Regions from separate parts of the Homo sapiens genome. Here regions 1 and 3 are each linked to region 2. The links come from fine-mapping of genetic effects on gene expression. A gene starts in region 2. Each other region holds a variant in brackets. All regions are shown on one strand. Distances are between the middles of the regions.

What was found. PIP is the estimated chance that this variant, and not a neighbour inherited with it, causes the effect.
Region 1: its variant is the best candidate, but not a certain one, in a credible set for the expression of RHOXF1-AS1 in testis (GTEx, PIP 0.89).
Region 3: its variant is the best candidate, but not a certain one, in a credible set for the expression of RHOXF1-AS1 in prostate (GTEx, PIP 0.53).

What each region holds. Positions count from the first base shown.
Region 1 is chrX:120,275,546-120,280,772 of GRCh38, forward strand. TMEM255A (transmembrane protein 255A) reads right to left here. Exons shown (of 9, transcript NM_001104544.3): 7 at 1,340-1,502. Among named protein-coding and RNA genes, the nearest start is that of ZBTB33, 27 kb to the left of the region's middle. The variant G/A (reference allele first, on the strand shown) is at 2,742.
Region 2 is chrX:120,033,111-120,038,337 of GRCh38, forward strand. RHOXF1-AS1 (RHOXF1 antisense RNA 1) reads left to right here and starts at 3,126. Exons shown (of 5, transcript NR_131238.1): 1 at 3,126-3,422.
Region 3 is chrX:120,175,910-120,181,136 of GRCh38, forward strand. No RefSeq gene overlaps it. Among named protein-coding and RNA genes, the nearest start is that of RHOXF2, 20 kb to the left of the region's middle. The variant C/T (reference allele first, on the strand shown) is at 3,142.

The DNA.
Region 1 (5,227 bases), 240 kb after region 2:
ACAGCCAAGGGCCTAGGAGCTAATTTCTGGGGTCAAAGGAAAGTCCCTCTTAGGCACAAAATAATTCCATAAACAGATGTGGGATGTTCATTTAAAGCAGTGGTATTCAATCATGGCTGCAGATCAGAATTACCTGGGAGCTTAAAAAAAAAAAACCAAAAAACCAAAAAACAAAACCTGATGCCTGGGCTTCAGTTTAGACCAATTAAATCAGAATCTTTAGAGAAGGAGCCCAAGCATTTTTTTTTTTTTTTTTTTTTTTTTAGAGACAGGGTCTTACTCTGTCACCCAGGCTGGAGTGCAGTGGTGCAATCATGGCTTACTGCAACCTCAACCTCCTGGGCTCAAGTGATCCTCCCACTTCAGCCTCCCAAGTAGCTGGGACTACAGATATGTGCCACTACACCCAGCTAATTAAAAAAAGTTGTTTTTTCTTAATAGAGACAGGGGCTGTTGCTCAGCCTAGTCTCAAACCCCTGGGCTTAGTCAATCCTCCTGTCTTGGCCTCCCAAAGGGCTGAGATTACAAGCATGAGCCACCATGCTGGGCAGGTGATTCTTATATGAAGCCAGGTTGATAACCATAACTCAAAGCTATTATCTCCATAATTAGAGATCTAGATTTATCAAATAAACAAATAAATGCTTAGAAATGCCTTAGAAGGAAAGGAAAAAAAGAAGCCTACTATATGGAGTACCTACTGAATGCTGAGTCCTGCTGTGCCTTTGCAGACACACACACACAAATAGAAAAGATTTGGAAGGGAAGAATGGAAAGTGGGGAGGCTGAGGTTGAGGTCCAAGTTGAAGGCAAGACCTGGCAAGCAACTTAGCCTAGAGCTGGCTCTGCGAATGCAAACAGAAAAGAGCCCAGATGCTCTTTCTGAAGAAACTTCACTATGAAATACCTGGGGAGGGGAAGACTAGCATTAATCCTACCTATAGCTAGAATAACCTTTCCTTCCATCTCTCCCAAAGTTTGTTAGGGGAAAACTATTCCCAAAAAATTTTACTAAAAGTGTGGGGTGGGGCTATAAAAGACTATGTTTACATAACCAGTGCGAATGGGGGAACTGAGAACACCCCTTCCTCCTTTCACCCCCCACCCCTAGAAGGTGCCTCCAGAACACAGGTAATTTGTGTATAACAAGAAATATTTGCAGACTGATGACATTACCTGGCTCCTTCAACTTGAGACATTTGAAGGCAGCTACATCCTTGAAGCAATTGCTTCTGATTCTTCCCTTCAAAATATGTGTCTGCATTTCCCCCAACTGCCTAGCCTTCCCCCTATGTCCAACAGGGGCCACTGTGAAATGCAAAGTCAATTCTTTCCTTACCATGTCCTTAAAGCCTCCAAGGACAGCGGCAGTGATGATGCCCAGGAACAGGCCAACAATGTTGAGGATGGTGGCAGACCAGAGCAGGTGGTAGAGGTGGATGATATCTTGGCAACTGCTGACATCGATGTATTCGTAGTACCCACCAGTGATCTCCACCCGGCTGGACAGGGAGGAGCATGCTCCAGTCAGTCCCCAGGGAGCAGGCTGTCCTCCCCAGCCCCCTCCCCAACTCTGGGATTGGGCTACCATACAGCTCAGTGAAAAGACAGGTGGGCAGGTGGGGAGCTACAGTAAGAGACATCATAGCCATGTACTATAATAAATCAAAGTGTGATTGTTTATCCCCACTCCCCGAAAAAAAACTCCTACCTGCCAGAAAAATACTTGTAACCACCACTAACACTAATCCTAGATAGCACTTATTGACACTTGCTATGTACCAGGCACAGTGCTAAGCATTTCACATGTGTGAATTCATTGCATCTGTGCTGTTTAATGTGGTAGCTACTAGCCACATGTGGCTATTTAAATTTAAATTAAGTAAAATTAAGTAAAAAGAAAAATTCAGTTGGTAAGTCTCACCAGCCACATTTCAAGTGCTCAATAGTCACATGTGGCTAGTGTTTACTATACTGGACAGAGCAGGTTACAGAACATTTCCATCATTGCAGAAAGTTCTGCAAATCCTCACAGTATCCTATCAAATAGGGACTATCACCATGCACATTTTACAGATGAAGAAAGTGAAGCACAGAGAAGTTAAAGAACTTGCCCAAGTCGTAAGTGGTAGAACTGGGACCTGAATTCAGGCTTCAAAGACTTCAGTGTGTGCCCTCTCAAAACAAAACAAACAAAAAAACAAACAAATAAAAACCAATGTCCTGGTAAACAACTAAAGCTGAGTTGCTACACAAAACCTGAAAGTCGCCTCCGTGGGGAGGCCTTTCTTGACCACTCTGTCCAAAGACACCCCTTCCCAGCCCTGTCGCTCTCTATCACATTATCCGCTATGGAATGAATTTTGTCCCTCCAAATTCATGTGTTAAAGCCCTATCCCCCAATGTGACTGTATTTTTAGATAGGGCTTTTAGAAGATAATTAAAGTTAAATGAGGCCACAAGGGTGGGGTCCTAATCGGATAGGATTGGTGGCTTTATAAGAAAAGGAAGATCTCGCTCTCCTCCTCCTCCTCCTCTTTTTCCCTCCTTCTCCCCTGACTTCCCTACTCCACGCCCCTCCCCCACCCACCCCCGACCCCGACTTTCGTTCTCTCCCTCCCTACTTGAATGTGAAAGGAAAGGTCACTGTGAGCACAGAGGGGAAGTGGCACAAGCCAGGTAGAGAGCCCTCACCAGAGCTCGACCATGTTGGCACCCTGATCTTAGACTTCCAGCCTCCA[G/A]AAATGAGAGAAATAAGTACATTTCTATTGTTTAAGCCACCTGGTCTATGGTATCGTGTTATGGCAGCCCGAGCTAAGCAATACATCACCCTTTTCTAATTTCTCTGTAGCATTCATTCCCATATGAAAATAACTTACTGATGTGTCTACTACGTTATTGTCTGCCTCCCCAACTTGAACGTGAGCTCCATGAGGGCAGGAACTGGTTCATTTTGCTCACTGCTGTGCTTGACACACAGTTGGTGCTACATAAATACCTGTGGAATTAATTAAATGAAAGTTCCTGTCCTCCTGGATGTCACAAACTAGTTTACAACTTGGCCACTGGAGTTCATCACGAATCTAAAACACTTAAAGTCACAACGAAACGCCCTGGCATTAGGATGATTATTACATGTGACTCCCCTGCTATAAGAATGCAAAAAAGAAAACAGAAAAACAATCAAAGGCTGATCTCCAAAATGAATCAGAGAGGGACTATTCACATATGAAAAGACTTAAACTTTACAGATGAATTTATCTTCAGATTCTTTAAAGTCAGTGTTTCTCTAAGGAGGTGAAGTCAGTGTGGTTACAGGGCAGACTGCATCAGAATCATCTGTGTTTGTGTCTATGTGTGCCTGCCTGTTTGTATCAGTGCATTATTTGTGTGTGCCTGTGGGTGTCTCTGCGTGTATCTGTGCATGTATCTTTGAGAAAGAGAGATGGTTAAACATGCAGATTCCTAGGCCCAGCCCCAGTCCTACTGAATCTGGTAGAATCTCTGGTGATGGGGTCAAGAATCTGTGTTAACAAGTTCATCAATGTTTGAGACCCACTGTTTTTAATAGTAAGCTTCCGTAGTGGAATTTTTTAAAAAAATATTTTTTGTAGAGACAGAGTCTTACTATATTGGCCAGGCTGGTCTTGAACTCCTGGCATCAAGAGATACTCCCACATCAGCCTCCCAAAGTGCTGGGATTCCAGGTGTGAGCCACCACACTTGGCCCATAGTGGAATTTTAAGGGAGTTTCAATTAATCAGAGTTTGAATTGGATTTCAGTATTTTCAGGAGCATATCTCAAGAGCCCATGCATAAGCATACATTGTCTCCTATTAGCTGGCATTGTACTAGGCCCTGGGGACAGGGCAGGGAGGATGCACAGATTATTTACTGCCCCCAAAAACGGACAGCTGTACAAGGACTATTCTCTGAAAAGGACAGACCTGTGTGTATGGGTGAGTGTGGAACTGCAGGAGCACCTTTGTAGCTTGGGAGTCAACTTCTGACATCCCCCAAATTATGTTTGCCTGCCTCCTAAAACACCAAGGGTGGACTAGTAGTATATATAGGCAGGCAGTATGCCATAGCTGACTCTGAAGTCAGACTGTGTTCGAATCCTGGCTCTGTCATCTATGCTCTGTCACCAGATGCTGACTCTAGCAACTTACTTTCTTACTCTTAGGTTACTTACTTTACTTAACTTCTCTGAGCCCGGGGGATGTAATGCCAACAGGCATGAAAGCAGTACTCCAACATATAATAAAAGCCTCCACTAAAATATGTAGCTACATTTTGTTCCTTCTAAGAGCCAGCCTCTGGCAACACAATTCAAACCTTTGAACCCTGTTCTTAAAGGTATTAACACTTTATTTTGTTTTTTGTTTGTTTGGTTGGTTGGGTTTTTTCTTTTTCTTTTTTTTTCCTTCCTTCTTTTCTTTCCTTTTCTTTCTTTTTTTTTTTTTTTTTTTTTTTTGATGGGGTCTTGCTCTGTCACCCAGGCTGGAGTGCAGTGGTATGGTCATGGCTCACTGCAGCCTCAACCTCCTTGACTCAAGTGATCCTCCAACCTCAGCCTCCCAAGTAACTGGGACTGCAGGCTCACACTGCCATGCCCAGCTAAATTTTGTAGAGATGCGGTTCTGACATGTTGCCCAGGCTGGCCTCGAACTCCTAGGCTCAATCTATCCTCCCATTTCAGGCTCCCAAAGTCCTGGGATTACAGCCATGAGCCACTGTCCCTGGCCAGTATTAAGACTTTGTAGGCACAAACCGCAATATGGGAATAGGATAGTAGTTTGTTTTAAAATATTCAATAATTTTAGATAATATATACTTGGTTTCAGTTTGAGTGGTTCCAGCAGCCATTTAATTTTTTTTTTTCACTGAACCATGAAGGAAAAGAAAGCTAATTCTTAGATATGGTTCGGGTTTAGCAAATTAATGTGGTTTTTTTCTGCTTGAGATTCAGGATTCCATTTGGTTCAGTCTCTGGGCAGAGCTTCCTCTGAAATTGCACCTTTTGCATTCCCACTGCTCCCATCCTCATGCCTCCATCACTGTAAGGCTGTCCTGCCAGACCCCACTGCTGCCTGATTACTCTTCCTAAAACACTTTTAAAAATATGTCATTCACTTAATCAAAACCCTTCTGTGGCTCCCCAGTACCTTCAGGGGAGTGTTCAAATTCCTCAGTCTGCCAAAGTCCAGCCTCAAAATGGAGTATA
Region 2 (5,227 bases):
GAAAGCAGAACTTGAAAGTGATGAACTTGGATATTTGGCAGAAATTTACAGGCAAAATCCTTAAGATTTTTCTTTGTGAACCCCAAGATCTTTACCCTAAAATGGTTCTGTTGAATTTTACCCTGACAATGTAAATTGATAGCTTATCTTCATAACCTGGTTTCTCCTTGCTGCTTATAGTAAAATGTAATATTGATACAGACAGGAGACAGGGAAATACTGGGTAGAAGAGGGTGGTTTCCCAGCAAAGGCCCCACCCTCAAGTCTGGAAACCCGTGGCCCTAAATGGGAACAAGCGTTCCTGTTTTTGTGCCCAAATGCTGCCTTTTGGCCTGCCACGCCCCTGTATCCTGTACCTGTATAAACTCCAAACCCCAGGATCCACAAGCAGATGAGCAGACAAGCAGAAGAGCAGAGGAACAGAAGAGTGGTGTGGCAGAGAAGGAGAGAAGAGAAGGAGCTTCTGAACATCAAGAGGAGTTAGGCTGGGGACGGTAGGAGAGGAGATCAGCCAAGGGACGACTGAACTCCAGGGGAAGATTATCTTCCCACTCCATTCCCTTTCCAGCTCCCCATCCATCCTGCAGAGAGCCACCTCCATCCAGCAATAAAATACGCCACATTTACCATCCTTCAATTTGTCTGTGTGACCTGATTCTTCCTGGATGCTGGACAGGAACCCAGTACCAAGAGGGCACTGAGCTGTTTAACACTTAAGCTGTCCCTGGATGGCAGGGCTAAAGGAGCATTGTAACATCCCTGGATATTGCTGTAGGCCCAGAGCCCAAAAGTGCTTGCCCTAGCTCAAATGCGTGCTCCCCCTCCCATAAGGGGTTTGAGCATGCAGTGGCCAAACAGACGAGCCACACCCCTGTTGCAGGCCCTGCAAGGGGGGTCAGTGAACTCTCCCATTTCAATGTGAAAGATATAAATTGAGGAAAGAACTATTAGGCAAAAAGTAACTAGCACTTGATTTTGGAGGTTCTCAGCCTATCGTGATTCCAAAGGATGCCAAAATTAGAAAATTTATTGTCGCAAAAGCATACTCTGAAGAGAAGGCCAACAGTATGGCTGGACAATCTTGCTAAAGAGATTATATATGTGATTCATGGATCCAATCAACCATATCAGCTGAAGGCAGGAATAGAGATGGGTTTATCCAGGAAGGATCTTGTCTAATGACATGGACTCCCATAACACACACGAGACTGATAAGGATTTTGAGAATGTTATATCAACAGAAATACTGGCATCTTGGAGTAAAGGAGATAGATATGGGATGAAATGAAGGAAGACTGTTGGACTTCTGGAAATCTATAGGCAGGATATGAGCTGACAGGGCTACTAGACTGCAAAGACACATTAGCCTTCAAGAAAAAGGAAGAGTGAATTATGAGGGTGGCACAGAAGCTGGTGGATCACTGCAAGACCAGATGGCAGAACATTGAGCTAAAGAGGATTGTTCCTAGGCCTTGAAATCTAATGGAATTAGCTATGCTAATTATTTATTTATTTACTTTTTTGAGATGAAATCTCATTCTGTCACGCAGGCTGGAGTGCAGTGGTACAATCTCAGCTCACTGCAACCTCCACCTGCCAGGTTCAAGCAATTCTCCTGCCTCAGCTTCCTGAGTAGCTGGGATGACAGGAACTCACCACAATGCCCCTCTAATTTTTGTATTTTAGTAGAGACGAGGAGGGGGGTTTCACCATGTTACCCAGGCTGGTCTCGAACTCCTGACCTCAAGTGATCCACTCACCTCAGCATCACAAAGTGCTGGGATTATAGGCGTGAGCCACCACACCTGGCCCTGCCATGCTAAATTTTGAACTTACTTGGGACAAGAAACCACTTTATGCCTCCCATATTCATTCTTTTGGAATGGTAATGTCTTGTAAAAGGAAAATAAATCTCAGGACTCCAAAATCATTAAGCCAAAGGGAAAAGTCAAGCTGGGAACTGCATCAGGCAAACCTACCTCCCATTTTATTCTTAAATAAGATAGCTACAAACAAAAAAAAAAGCTACATACATGTCTCACAATTTGTCCACTGGGACATTCCTTTTGAGCCCCAAGATGTTTACCTTAAAATGGTTCTGTTGAATTTTACCCTGACAATGTAAATTGATAGCTTATCTTCACAGGTTCTAGACAAAGAACAGAACTCAAAGTCATCCTTCTGTTCATCTGAGACAGATGCATATCTGATTGCTTTCCTAATGTAAAAATGCAGATTCACTGAGCTGACAAAGGCATAAGTAACTATTCCTCTACCCTTCTCTCACATGTAAACTGTGTATTCAGTGAAAGGTTTATCAAACACTCAAAATAATGCAACCATTTGTCTGTTATCTACCCACACCTTTAATTTTTTTTCCTTTTCCCCCAATATCTGCCCTTTTGCCTTTAAATACTGAAGTCCACAAAATCTTCTTTGGAAAAAGGCATAGACCTGCCTTCCAGATGCATGTTCTTAACCTTGGTAAAATAAAATTTCCAAGTTAATTGAGACCTAGCTCAGATACTTTTTGGTTTACAAATTGGTAACCACCAAGGGATTCTGAGTGGAGGTGCCCCTGACCTTTGACAAATCTTCTATTACTGCTTGGTACCAGCTTGAGATATCTTTATTGCTCAAATCAATAGGCAGATTTGCTGAGGCCTGGGAACTTCCCCCCTCCAGACAATCCCTTGTAGCAGGACGAGCTGCAGACAAAATCTTTCAGACACTGAGTTGTAGAAGGAAGGGCTTTATTCAGCTGGGAGCATCGGCAAGCTACTGTCTTAAAATCCGAGCTCCTCGAGTGCACAGTTTCTGTCCTTTTTAAGGGCTCATAACACTAAAGATTTCACATGAAAGGGTCGTGATTGATTGAGCAATCTAGGGGGTATGTGACAGGGGCTTCATGCACCGGTAGTCAGAGTGAAACAGAACAGAGCAGGGAGTTTCACAGCGTTCTTCCATACAATGTCTGGAATCTATGGATAACATCGGTTGCTAAGTCATGAGTTGATTTTTAACTACTAGGTTTAGGCCAGGCAGGCCCAGGCCTGGTTTCAGTTCTGGTTTTGGGTCTGGTGCCTGGCTGCCTGCCCTTGGTTTCACTTCCTTGTTTTTTTCTTAAAACAGGTACTGAGTATAAAACAATATAAAACAATATGAGAGGGTCCGTCTCTTCCCTCACCCTGATCTCCCCAAATTTGGTCGATATCTAAGGTTTTTTTTTGCTGTACAACTCCTTTTCTGGAGTTTTACTCACTTTCAACAAGGAAGGTGAGTTTTCCTGCTTCCATGATGATGGAGGGCAGGCAACTCCTTTCTGGAGTTTCAGCTCAATTCCAACAGGGAAGGCGAGTTGGAGTTTTTTTCCTGCTTATAGGCTGGTAGAGAGCAGTGTTGAGCCTGGACTCCATTCCTAGGTAAGTAGCTGAATTGGGGTTTTATCTTGAAAATTCTCCTTAATGACCTAAAGTTAAGATTAACAACCAGCAGCTCTTAATTTCTCCTTACCATTAGAGTGCTCAGGAATTGTATACATAGTATGATCATTTGTTTGTTTTGCCAAACTGTTTTTTCATTTATTTGTTTGTTTTGTTGTTTTGGTCTTTTTCCCATTGGATTTGACTAACTCTACCCAACTATATCAAATGTGAAGGAAAGTTACAAATGGTGAGGAACAACGCCTCTGCATTGGGTAAATTCCTGCAGCTGGGGGGGAAAAGGGAAAAGGATAAACAGCCATCAACAGGAAAAAAGAAAGATTTTGACTACCTGAGGGGCTTTATTTACATAACAAGGCCACCTTTTGCTAGCCAAGCCAAACTGTGCTCCACACTGCAGTTCTGTAGCTAAGGTTTTGCCCTTTTTTCCACCACAACAGCCTGGGTTTGGTTCCTAAATCAAGTTCTTTCTGGTTTGATATTTGTGTTATTTTTGAAATATCAGCAATTTGTTCCAGCTAAAATAGGGTAGTGAGATTTAGAAGAATTTTTTAAGAGCTTAGTGGCTAAAAGTCAGTTTAATTAAAAGCTAATATCCACGATGTGTGTGTGTGTGTGTATATTTAAAAGGCCTTTATGGTTTTTTGTTTTGTTTTGTTTGTTTGAGAAGGAGTTTCACTCTTGTTGCCCAGGCTGGAGTGCAATGGTGCGATCTTGGCTCACTGCAACCTCTACCTCCCGGGTTCAAGCAATTCTCCTGCCTCGGCCTCCCAAATAGCTGGGATTACAGGCATACGACACCACACCCAGTTAATTTTGTATTTTTAGTAGAGATGGGATTTCTCCATGTTGGTCAGGCTGGTCTCAAACTCCCGACAACCTCAGGTAATCTGCCTTCCTCAGCCTCCCAAAATGCTGGGATTACAGGCGTAAGCCACCGTGCCTGGCCTGTTTTTTTTTTCTCTCCTAGTACCTTGTTTTTTGAGAAAAAGGTTTTTTCCTTCTCAGTCAGTCAAATGAATTCTGTTTTCTCCATTTACTTCTGCCTATCTCTCCTTTCTCTTGTTCCCCTCTGCTGCATGAGGGACCCAAAATAGTTTCTAACAGCCTGTAATTCCTTAAATAAAACAGAGAAGGCACTAGAGTCCTTTTTGAGGAGAAACATCTGTTTTTCCTTATGGAACCCCAAGAGTCTAAACAGACAAGTTCCTCTCAGATCTTAAACTGCTTGCTTTTGTACTGTGTTACCTGATTTTTGGACTAAGTTATTACAACAGAGGCTACTCTTCGGGTGTTTAAGATAAGAAAAGGTATACTTTAGACACTTAGAGGAAAGTCTTTGTAACAAAGTGCAGTGCAAATGCATCACATGGTCTAGAATCATGATAATTCTATCTTTTGGAGATCCAGGATTCAGCGTGGGCTCTGCCCAGAGCTGAGATCCAGTTAAAAGCTAGAGACTAGGCTGGGCACAGTGGCTCATGCCTGTAATCCCAGCACTTTGGGAGGCCAAGGTGGGCAGATCACGAGGTCAGGAGTTCAAGACCAACCTGGCCAACATGGTAAAACCCCATCTCTACTAAAAATACAAAAATTAGCGGGGCATGGTGGCAAGTGCCTGTAATCCCAGACACTTGGGAGGCTGAGGGCATGCCCAGCCGATGCTACACTTTTAAACAGCCAGATGTCATGATTACTCACTATCATTAGAACAAAACTAGAGGGGAAATCTGCCCCTATGATCTAATCGCCTCTCACCAGGCCCCATCTCCAACACTGGGGAC
Region 3 (5,227 bases), 140 kb after region 2:
TACTTAGCCTCAGAAACAAGTAGCTGGTGTCAGTATGAATGATGCTGAAGTGCTGCTCCTCTTGGGAAGAAAGTCCTCTGGCTGGGAGCCAGAGGGGAGAGGGAGCCCTATGCTCTTGTCTGCAGCAGTCTGAAGTAGAATCTCTGCCTTACTGATCTGGGAGGGGAAAAGGAAGAAGCTGTAGTGATTCAAATACCACAGACTTGCTTTTCTTATTGAATTTTTGTAGGTTCTCTTAGAAAGACGTTTCTTCATTTGCTGTTTTCCCTTAGGACCATTTCCAGGGGCTTTAAGTTGTTGTTTTAAAAATAATATTTACCACTTTCACTTGGGAGTGCATCAGCAGAGTTCCTCAAGCTGTCATGCTGGAAGTTGAACTCCGTGTTTGGTACTTTTTTCATTTGCACAGTGATCTTGTTTTTTCTATGCCTAGACAAGGTTATGAAGTGGTATTTTTTTTCTCACTTCGTCAAGATCACAGAGTGATTTTGTCTGGCAGTAGTGCTCTGTGAGACTGTTTATGTTCAACAGGAAAACATCAAGACCTAGTTGTGCGTACCAGGCCAGTGCTGGCTGTCAGGGACTGCGATATGGTTTGGATTTGTGTCCCTACCCAAATCTGATGTCGAATTGGAGGAGGGGCCTGATGGGAGGTGATTATATCATGGGGGAGGATTTCCCCATTGCTGTTCTCATGACAGTGAGTGAGTTCTCATAATATCTGATGGCTTAAAAGTGTGTGGCACTTTCCCCCTTAATTTTTTGCTCTCCTGTCACCATGAAAAGATATGCCTTGCTTCCCCTTCACCTTTTGCCATGATTGTAAGTTTCCTGAAGCCTCCCAGTCATGCTTCCCGTTAAGCCTGTGGAACTGTGAGTGAATTAAACCTTTTTTTCTTTATAAATTACCCAGTCTCAGGTAGTTCTTTATAGTATGAGAACGGACTAGTACAGACTGCTTATCACCTTCTCACAGTGTAGAACAATCACTTCGTAATTATTCTGTCTAAGGGGCAAGGAAGCTTGGGCATTTATCCACCAACTCCCAATAATCATTGGTTGAGGGCTGCTCCTGGGGGCATTTATTCCCCAGCCTTCCCTGTTCAGGCAGAGGGGCTTCAGACCCCAGAGGAAGCATCAAGCTGTTGCAAATTGGGCCAAGTACATATGGCTGAGATCTAGTAGGACACAGACAACATCTGCTATAGATGACCTGCCAAAGATCCTGAAAGGGCCAGGATTTGAGCTCAGTGTTATCTGATGACCATGTCTTAGCCACCACTTGATTTCGTGAATGGAGAGGTTTGAAAAGAACAGCAGAACTTTGCTAGAGGGGTTGTCAAGATTACTTGCCTGAACAGTTTCTCATGTATATATTACACAGACTGTTGGAGATACCTGCTCTGTTCCCAGCTCCTGGCTAGACGATGGGGTCACAAAGATGACCCAGGCATGTTTTCTGCTCTTATGGTACAATCTGTCTGTTGAGGGTGGGATATCTGAAGGGACAAGCCCACACTTCGTCCCCAGTCCCACCTGTGTTGGCTAGGGAGTCCTTCCTGGAGGATGTGTTGCGTAAACAATGGAGAGAATTTAGGGAACATCGAGCCTACTCTTTTCACTTTACAGATGAAGGAACACAGGCCCACAGCAAGGGAGTGGTCTGCAAAAGAGAACATATAGACTGCACCCTGGAGAAGGCCAGCTTCTAAGTGGCCATGCCCTTCCTTAGCTCCCCAGTCACCCAGATACAGGAAGTGCTCACTATATCAGATTCAGCTCCTCAGCACTTACCAAGTCCATCCTGCCCAGAATGCTTTCCTTCAAAGGCCTGCAGGCTCAAGGCTCTGTCTTAAGCCTGAGCCTTTTTACCTCTAAAGAAAGTAATCAACCTCCTCCAAAGGCATTCAGTGTCCTGGTATGGGAGAATATGTGTGTATACCAGGGTCTGGGAATTTTGAGAAACCATCTTAAGGTTTGGTGAGTTGCTTTTTCTCCTTATGTGAATTTATACAGTCCTCTATGGAGTTCTGGAGGGAAAATGAACCAAACAAAATATTTTTTTTGAGACAGGGTCTCACTCTATCTCTTAGGCTGGGGTGCAGTGGCACAATCTTGGCTCACTGTAGCCTTGACCTCACAGGCTCAGGTGATCCTTCCACCTCAGCCTCCTGAGTAGCTCGGACTACAGGCATGCAGCACCACACTCACCTAGTTTCTGTATTCTTTGTAGAGATAGGATTTTGCCATGTTGCCCAGGTTGATCTCAAACTCCTGGGCTCAAGTGATCCTCTTGCCTCTGCCTCCCAAAGTGCTGGGATTACAGGTGTGTGCTACTGCACCCAGCCGAAGATTTTTTTTAAAGTGAAAACAAAGTATGTTTTTATCTATTTCCAAACTATAGCATGAATTTCCCCAAGAAACTTTTAGCAGATGCTCTCCTCCCTTTTGCAAATATACTAAAACTATTTTATGAAAACAGTATTGGGAATATGGACCCAAAACACGGTTATCCTGATGTAGAGATTTGGCCAATGGTACATTTGAATTCCACTAAAATGAACTCTGTTATACTGACCTGCTTTTGACTATATCCTTTATACAGCACTGTAGAGGGCTTTCTGCAGGCCCAGAGCAATGGAGTGGCCTACGTAAGAGAACACACATAGCTCAGCTTAGAAGAGGCCAGCCGCTGAATGGCCATGCCCTCCCCTGGGCCAGAGATCATTCAATTAAGAGAAACACACACCAGCCCAAGTTCAGCTCTTCAGCACCTACCACATTATCTAGCCCAGAACTATTTCACTTAAAGGGTTGAAGATTCAAGTCCCTTCCCCAATCATGGCACTGGGCCATTTTACCTCTAGGAATAGTAAACAACCTCCCCTAAAGGCATTCAGTATCTTGGTGTCCATTCTTACAGGCCCTTGAGGGAGTGATACAACTTGTACCCTCCTCACAACTCTCATTTCTCCCAATCTTCTTGCAAATCTGTGCCTGAAGCTGGAAGCACAACACATGAACAATAACTAGCTTGGTGCTTGGTGTTGAATTAACTTTTTTAAGAAAGCAGGCTAACAGGTTGGAAATTGTTCTGTCAATATTTTAGAATCTAGTAATACAAAAGACCCCTTCTAAAAG[C/T]ACGTTCTGTTGTGTTACACAAGCAAGGGGACAAAGGTGATTTCAGAGGTAGCATTCAGGTGTGAGCATCATAATTGATACATTTGGACCCCTCTAAAGCACAGGCCACAGACAAAACTAGGGCCTCTATGAGAACTGCAGAGTTGGATTATGATTTTTTATTTCAAGCCGAAGAATCTTGGTTTAGGCAAAATAATGGAGGGAAGGCAGAGAACAAGGAAGAGTCTCTGTCCATTCCCTTTGAACGAGAGAAACAAAAAAATTAAACAAAGGATGTTTTAAAATCAAAAGGTGAAAGAGTCTGTGGAGACATAGGAGGAAAGAAATCCATGGCAATGGCTGAGCCTGGAGCTGTTGTTGAGGTGTGGGGAGCTTGACGATAAACAGCGGCTAGCAGCTAGGTACTGCCTCTGGAAGATAGCCAGTGGGGCACAAGGAGGTAGCTCTGGCCAGCTGGGCTTTACCATAAAAAAAAAAAGGAAAAATAGAACTCTGGTCCCTATATAAATCAGTCCCTAACATCTCCTTCCACAGCCCTCATCACGAGGCCAAGCAGTAAGACCAATTTCTCTTTACCTCTGATCCCTATCCTCCCTTTAACTCATCTGGTCACATTAAGGGGTTTCAGTGGGATTGAAATTATTTATAAGGAAGAAAGGAAAGTAAAGACTGAGTGGAGGTTTCACAATCTGATTTTCCCTGGCCCAGGTCCCCAACCCCAGCACCTCAAGGAGCACAAAATATGATTCTATTCATTTTAAGCACAAAGAATTTCCAAGGATTTCTCAGAAATTCCACAGGCCTACCCGCCACATCAAAAAGGTCAACTCCAAAAGTGAGTCCGACAGAAATATTGTAAGATGCTAAATCGTCTCTTCTATTTATTTAACATACAGACTTAGATTTAGGAGCCTCTTCTTGGCTCAACCCGTTAGGTGAACACATTCTATAGTATCAAAATTTTGCATAACTCTCCACTAAGTAAATGTTTAGTCCATTCATTCTGAACTGGAAGGAAGGAGACTAGCTGCCAGCTGTGATCCTAGTCAACATGCAGGATGTGATGAAATGAGGAAGTCTTCTTCATGGTCATCGAGTTACTGTCCAAGAGTAGCAACCACAGCCAACGACAGAGATCAAATTTCATTCATCTCACTCTGCTCCTTCTCACCATTCTTTCCCCTATGAACCATAGGAAAGACTCAATCCATAGGCAAAATAAAAATGATACTCTGAATAACTCTTTTAACACCCTCCTGATATTTAGGCACCATGCCCAAACTGTCTTGTTCCCTCTCACAATTGGTAGCATTCTAATATTGTACATCAATATCTCAGTTAAATAGAATAACACTAGGAGGGAACTTGAATTAATCATGATTGCATACTTATTGCAGGAAAAGATAAATAACCAAGAAAGCCACTTTTCCTCTGCTGAATCTTTTTCTTTGCTTAGCTGTTTTTTCCATATGTGTTGCTTTATATAACTATTTAGAGAAAGTCTCAGGGATCAGCACACATTCAATCTAATAGCCTAAGTGTTTTTCAGCTAACGCCATGGCAATAAAGTTTGCTCTTTGGAGTGATGGCTCTTAGACACTGTATTAGTCTGTTCTCACACTGCTATGAAGAAATGCCCAAGCCCGGGTAATTTATAAAGGAAGGAGGTTTAATTGACTCACTGTTCTGCATGGCTGGGGAGGCCTCAGGAAACTTACAATCGTGGCAGAAGGCAAAGGAGAAGCAGGCACTTTCTTCACAGGGCAGCAAGATGGAGGAAGTGCAAGCAGGGGAAATGCCAGATGTTTATAAAACCATCAGATCTTGCGAGACTCATTCACAATCATGAGGACGGAATGGGGGAAACCACCCCCGTGATCCAGTTACCTCCACCTGGTCCTGCCCTTGACACATTGGGATTATGGGGATTACAATTCAAGATAAGATTTTGGATGGGGACACAGCCAAACCATATTAGACACTACAAACTCACAGTGAATCTCTGGAATATACCATGCTCATTTCTGACTATCTTTGCTTGTGCTGTTCCTATACTCCTTTCCTCATCTAGCCAAATCATTCATGT